2 linked regions of the Homo sapiens genome follow. The protein of the gene in region 1 interacts with the protein of each later gene in a pairwise test. Each region holds a gene or a part of one and is shown on either strand. Other genes may lie near its edges.

What was found. The genes of interacting proteins can lie anywhere in the genome.
Region 2: the proteins of EPCAM (region 1) and DLST interact in binary tests that used the Homo sapiens proteins (3 or more experiments, as listed by UniProt).

What each region holds. Positions count from the first base shown.
Region 1 is NC_000002.12:47,382,811-47,386,310, forward strand, and holds part of EPCAM (epithelial cell adhesion molecule precursor), read left to right. Parts: intron 1-2,355; coding exon 2,356-2,400; intron 2,401-3,500.
Region 2 is NC_000014.9:74,891,916-74,895,415, forward strand, and holds part of DLST (dihydrolipoyllysine-residue succinyltransferase component of 2-oxoglutarate dehydrogenase complex, mitochondrial isoform 1 precursor), read left to right. Parts: exon of another isoform or gene 1-143; intron 144-918; coding exon 919-1,071; intron 1,072-1,432; coding exon 1,433-1,509; intron 1,510-2,396; coding exon 2,397-2,494; intron 2,495-3,500. UniProt on the Homo sapiens protein: Dihydrolipoamide succinyltransferase (E2) component of the 2-oxoglutarate dehydrogenase complex. The 2-oxoglutarate dehydrogenase complex catalyzes the overall conversion of 2-oxoglutarate to succinyl-CoA and CO(2).

The DNA.
Region 1 (3,500 bases):
ATCTTTATCTTTGGATCTGGAATGGTTGCTATGATGTTGATACAAGCTGTGCACAGGTGGTGATGATACTGCATGGTCCCATTTTTAGACCCCAAAACTTAGATGCATGTGTTTATATATGATATTTGTATTAGTGTGGAAAAGGAGGATGTGGAAGAATGCACACCAAACTGTTAAATTTCTTTCTTTTTTTTTTTTGGAATGGAGTCTCGCTGGCCGGACGTGGTGGCTCACTGCTGTAATCCCAGCACTTTGGGAGGCCAAGGCAGCTGGGTCACGAGGTCAGGAGATCGAGGCCATCCTGGCTAACACGGTGAAACCCTGTCTCTACTAAAAATACAAAAAATTAGCCAGGTGTGGTGGCGGGCACCTGTAATCCCAGCTACTTGGGAGGCTGAGGCAGGAGAATGGCGTGAACCTGGGAGGCGGAGCTTGCAGTGAGCCGAGATTGCACCACTGCACTCCAGCCTGGGTGACAGAGCGAGACTCCATCTGAAAAAAAAAAAAAAAAGAAAAGGAGTCTCTCTGTGTTGCCCTGGCTGGAGTGCAGTGTCATGATCTCGGCTCACTGCAGCCTCCACCTGCCGGGTTCAATTGATTCTCCTGCCTCACCCTCCCGAGTAGCCGGGACTACATGCAGAAGCCACCATGTCCAGCTAATTTTTGTATTTTTTGGTAGAGACAGGGTTTCACCATATTGGCCAGGCTGGTCTCGAACTCATCACCTCGTGATCCGCCTGCCTCGGCCTCTCAAAGTGCTAGGATTACAGGCATGAGCCACTGTGCCCGGCTTCTTCTTTTTTTTTTTTTTTTTTTTTTTTTTTTTTTTTTTTTTTTTTTTTGAGATGGAGTCTTGCTCTGTTGCCCAGGCTGGAGTGCAGTGGCACGATCTCGGCTCACTGCAACCTCCATCTCCCAGGTTCAAGCCATTTTCTTGCCTCAGCTTCCCAAGTAGCTGGGACTACAGGCGTGCACCACCATACCTGGCTAATTTTTTTGTATTTCTAGTAGAGATAGGGTTTCACCATGTTGGCCAGGCTGATCTCGAAATCCTGATGTCAGGTGATCTGCTCACTTCGGCCTCCCAAAGTGCTGTGATTATAGGCGTGAACCACCATGCCTGGCCTAAACTGTTAAATTTCTTTAAAGATTATTCATTGTTTCCTTTTTTTCTTTCTCTTTCTTTTCTGTTGTCCCATTGGATCCAGCATTGTTTTTGATTTTGATTTTTGTTTGTTTGTTTCACTTGTCGTGGTAGACTTTTTTTTGTTTAGTAGTGAAAGTTTTTATTTTATTTTATTTATTTATGGAGACAGAGTCTCCTTCTGTTGCCCAGGCTGGAGTGCAATGGTGCATGATCTTGGCTCACTGCAACCTCTGCCCCCCAGGTTCAAGCTATTCTCCTGCCTCAGCCTCCCGAGTAGATGGGATTACAGGCGCCTGCCACCACGCCTGGCTAATTTTTGTATCTTTAGTAGAGATGAGGTTTCACAATATTGGCCAGGCTGGTCTTGAACTCCTGACCTAAAGTGATCCACCCACCTCAGCCTCTGAAAGTGGTAAGATTACAGGCATGAGCCATCATGCCTGACCTATTTTATTTTATTTTAATTTTTTTTTAGAGATGGAGTCCCACTCTGTCGCCCAGGCTGGAGTGCAATGGCGCCATCTCGGCTCACTGCAACCTCTGCCTCTCGGGTTCAAGTGATTTTCCTGCTTCAGTCTCCCAAGTAGCTGGGATTACAGGCGACCACCACCGCGCCTGGCTAATTTTTTTGTTTTTTTAGTAGAGTCGGGGGGTTTCATCATGTTGGCCAGGCTGGTCTTGACCTCCTGACCTCAAGTGATCCGCCCACCTCGGCCCCACAAAGTACCGGTGAGCCACCACGCCCAGCCCACCTTATTTATTTTTAAGAGACAGGGTCTTACTCTGTAGCCCAGGCTGGAGAGCAGTGATGCCATCTCCACTCACTGCAACCTCTGCCTCCTGGGTTCAAGCAATTCTGGTGCCTTAGCCTCCTGAGTAGCTGGGACTACAGGTGCGTGCCATGACACCTGGCTAATTTTTGTATTTGTAGTAGAGATGGGGTTTCACCGTGTTGGCTGGGCTGGTCTGAAACTCCTGACCTCAGATGATCTTCCCGCTTCGGCCTCCCAAAGTGCCGGGATTACAGGCATGAGCCACTCCACTGGTGTGAAATTTTTAATTTAAGAAGCAATAAATGTTTATGGATAGATGTTAAAATTAGTTTTTTTTCAGATCAAAATTATGTCCATTAAAAGCATATATGTCTGTTTAGATAATCTTTTTTTGAATAGCAGTCCTAAAACAATAGTTGTCTTTCTTCCACTCAGGTTATTTCCAGAAAGAAGAGAATGGCAAAGTATGAGAAGGCTGAGGTAAATGGATTACTTACCTAAATAGAAAGGCCCTGTTGAATCTCTTACTCCTAATCACTCTACCTTCCTACACACTGATGCATTTCAGTTATACTGGAGTCCCTTTATACTGTTGTCTTTAGGGTCTTAGGGACAGTCTTAGAATGTACTCTTACCTAAATATTCTTGCGTGAGTTCCATGGCAGATCACCATCTGTTTTCTGCCTCATAGAAGAGTGGAATGGGAAGCCTATGGTTTTTATTCTACAAAGAGTCAACATCTAACAGAATCTTCTGAAGGCATACTCCAGTGGATTCACCTTGGAGAAACTCATTGTGACTGATGATCTGATTTATTATCTCTATGCCAGTGAAATAATCATTTAATATGAACTTAATTTGTCATAATCTATTGTGTACTAACTAGTCTATACTAGTGTGACATCAAAGTGTCAGATTGTTAGTGTGTTTCAGTCCCTTGGAATTGAATATGAACACTTATCCTTGAACCCTATCAATAACATTTTTCACATATCTCAATTTTTGTGTGTCTTTGTAGTTGTATGTGGGCCACTTACTAATATTTTAGCAAGTAATAAAAATAGAAACGTAAAGGAATATTGGAAAAAGTCTAATGGAACCAGAAAGTTCTAGCATTTTTTTCCCATTCTGTAGTAGGTCATCTGGTTTATTTGGTTTGGTGACCGCAAGTCTAGAAGACTAACCCTGAATTGAATGGTAACAGACAGGCAGAATGACAATGTAGTGTTGCAGTGCAGAGCAGTACAGACCTGGGTTTGGCTGGGCAAAATTATATAACTTCTTTAAGCCTCCATGTTTCCTCATCTGTAAAATGAGGATAATAGATAGTATGGACCTGTTGCAAGGATTAAACATAATCAGTGTAAAGTGTTGGTCCCATGCTTGCCACATAAGAAAATATTTGTCAACAGAGTGGTAGTTGTCATTATCATTGTCTCAGTTTGCCTGTAACTAGTTGTGTGATCTGAGACAAACACTAATTTTGAACTTGAGTTTCCCCACATGTAAAATGAAAGATTGATAATAGAAAGTAAATCAATTTTTTCTAGCATTAAAAATAGTATGCATTTAATAAAAAT
Region 2 (3,500 bases), on another chromosome or scaffold:
CTCCTGTTGCAGAAGTTTGTCTTAGCACTAACCCTGGATATAATGTCCAGATGGGTGAAAAACAGAAACAAACATTTCATTTAAAGTTGTGAGATTATTACTTGGCCACTTCAGTGATTTATGAGTCATCCTGGATGAAGTGCTTTCTTAAGCCTAAGTCAACCCTCGATGACTATTTTATTTTTTGAGATGGAGTTTCACTCTGTCGCCAGGCTGGAGTGCAGTGGCCTGATCTTGATTCACTACAACCTCCGCCTCCGGAGTTCAAGTGATTCTCCTGCCTCAGCCTGCCGAGTAGCTGGGACTATGGGCACATGCCACCACGCCCAGCTAATTTTTGTATTTTTGGTAGGGACGGGCTTTCACCATGTTGGCCAGGATGGTTTTGATCTGTTGACCTTGTGATCCGCCTGCCTTGGCCTCCCAAGGGGAGTAATCCCTTGGCCTGTAATCCTGGGATTACAGGCGTGAGCAACTGCACCCAGCCTATTTTTTAATAGTATTCTTGCATATATAATGTTAAAATAGAGGATGAAGAGTATCAGTAATTAGAAATATGTTTATGTATGCATTTCAATATTTTAAATTGCCTAGGTGTTTTTTTTTTTCCTTGGAAGTTTACATTTTCTTGGGCTTGATAGGTGCTTTGAAAGTACTTGCTGAATTTATTCAGTGGAAACCTGTGAAATTGGGAAGGGAGCTAAGTTGAGCCAGTTATCTGATGGACATTTAGGGACCCTGAGGACTAGAGAATAGTGCCTTATGTCATTGTGTGTGTGTCTCATAGTGCTTTGCATATTGCTGATACCCAGTAGACATTCGTTACTTGATTGGAGCTAGAGTTTTTGCCACTAAATTTTGCTTGGTTGCTTCTCATTTCAGACAGTGCCAGTGGCATATACTTTTCTTGTTTTTCAGCTGCTCCTGCTAAGGCCAAGCCGGCTGAAGCTCCTGCTGCTGCAGCCCCAAAAGCAGAACCTACAGCAGCGGCAGTTCCTCCCCCTGCAGCACCCATACCCACTCAGATGCCACCGGTGCCCTCGCCCTCACAGCCTCCTTCTGGCAAACCTGGTAGGCTTCCAACTCCCACATGTCATGTGGGAGAACATCTCGTCTAATATGTTCCTTCAAAGGGTAAACTCTAGACTGATGATGGTTCTGAACAGGCCAGGTTGGCTGCTTTGTAGAAAGAATTCTAGACTTTGTATCCAAAGGCCTGCTTTGCATCTCAGCTTTCTGTTACTAGCTGTGTGTCTTTAGGCTAGTCACTTAATTTATCTGAACAGATTGTTCATCTGTGAAGTTGGAGTGATACTAATATACCTCAGAATATCTTGAAGATTAAGTAACAGTACATATGAAAGCACTGGCACAAACTCAGCAGATGTTTCTTTCCTTGTCTGATGCAGCTTTATCCTCTTTTCATTTTCAGTGTCTGCAGTAAAACCCACTGTTGCCCCACCACTAGCTGAGCCAGGAGCTGGCAAAGGTCTGCGTTCAGAACATCGGGTAAGCCTCTGAGGACCACTTTCAGGAAAGAGGCAGGGGGCAGTGTTGAGATTAGTGGAGTATGGGTGTGGTGATGCCTACCTTTGAATGCCTGGCAGCTCATTCCCTCAACCTTGATAAAGGGAGTTTAGGATATAACTTCTTCATAGTCACATAACCATCAAATGATAGGACTAGAACCTGAGGTCTTCTGAACACTTGTTCAGTGGTTTTCCTACTATATTATGCTACCAGTGAAAGCCTTGGGTAAGTTAAATATTTGTAGGGGTGGTAGCTTAGTAACTCACCCCCGTCCTCCCACGATGTCACACGCTTCAGAGAGGTGGTTTAGTGAGCTCTATTCCTATACTTCTGGGATACTTAGCTGTAGCTAAGGGATAATACTCAGTAGCAATAGCTGTCAGGTGCAGACATAAAGCCTCAAGGAAGTATGGTCAGGATTGTGGTTCCTCTGCCTGAGAATACTTCCTAAAAATATGATAGCCTCGAAAGTTTGTTGCTCATGAGGTTCTGTTCCACAAATAGCTATTCTTATGCAAATCTTTATCAACAGAAAGTGCCCTTTTTCTTATGATTCTTATGTTGGCTAGACTACACTACACTACATTCTTTTATAAATGGGTTTTGGTTTTTAAATCACTGTTTCTGAGCCTTCATTCTTGGTCAAGCTTTAGGCACATCTGAGTGAGTAGTTTTGGCCTGTGTTTGCATGTTTTTGCTTGGAGGAGAAAGGGCCACCACAGGAAAGGGAAGCCTGGAGCTCGTGTACTTAGATACTGTAGTCCTTGGCCATCTACTCGTGGCAAGCCGTGTTCTTTCTGACTACACGGGGAATGCTTGACCCAGAGAGATCAGATTGTCAATGCTTGTTCCACTCTTACTTTCAGGAGAAAATGAACAGGATGCGGCAGCGCATTGCTCAGCGTCTGAAGGAGGCCCAGAATACATGTGCAATGCTGACAACTTTTAATGAGATTGACATGAGGTAGTGTCTCTAGTCCCTCTTATCCCCTAGGCCCCTTTTTCTTAGAGAACACGAACTTGCCCCACTCCTTATCTAGTGCTGATTCTAAAACTAACTTGTCAGGGAAGAGGTATTTGTTTATTGTTTTTTGTTTGTTTGTTTTTGTTTTTGTTTTTTGAGATGGAGTCTCGCTGTCTCCCAGGCTGGAGTGCAGTGGCATGATCTCGGCTCACTGCAAGCTCCGCCTCCCGGGTTCACGCCATTCTCCTGCCTCAGCCTCCAGAGTAGCTGGGAATACAGGCGCCCCCCACCACGCCTGGCTAATTTTTTGTATTTTTTTAGTGGAGACGGGGTTTCACCGTGTTAGCCAGGATGGTCTCGATCTCCTGACCTCGTGATCTGCCCTTCTCGGCCTCCCAAAGTGCTGGGATTACAGGCGTGAGCCACCGCGCCTGGCCTGTTTATTGTTAACTTTCACAGAGTGAGCCGCTGGCTTCTTCTCTAATTGGCTTTCCTAATACTATGCCTGCCTCCTCCATGACCTTAACCTTAGCCTTGGCTAGGTGTAGTGGCTCACACCTGTAATCCTGGCACTTTGGGAGGCCGAGGCAGGCGGATTGCTTGAGTCCAGGAGTTCAAGACCAGCTGGGTAACAAGGCGAAACCCCACCTCTACAAAAAATACAAAAATTAGCCAGGTGTGGTGGTGCACATCTGTAGCCCCAGCTACTTGGGGGGCTGAGATGGGAGGATTGTTTGACCCCGTCACTTACATATTTTCCTAAGTGATTCAGAATCGAGTGGATGAAAAGGCAAAGATAGGCTGGGCTTGTCTTTCATTTTACCCAGCTCTGACAGTGAAATGGAAAACAAGTTGTGTTTTTAAATAACCTTAGAATGTTAACCAAAGGTACTAATTCACTAGGTATGCCCATTTCTGTAGTGAGCTAATTGTTGACTTACCTGTTTTCTTCAAGATTTCAATGTGTTCAAGTATCAGCACTGTCAGGAAGAGAAATTTGACAAAC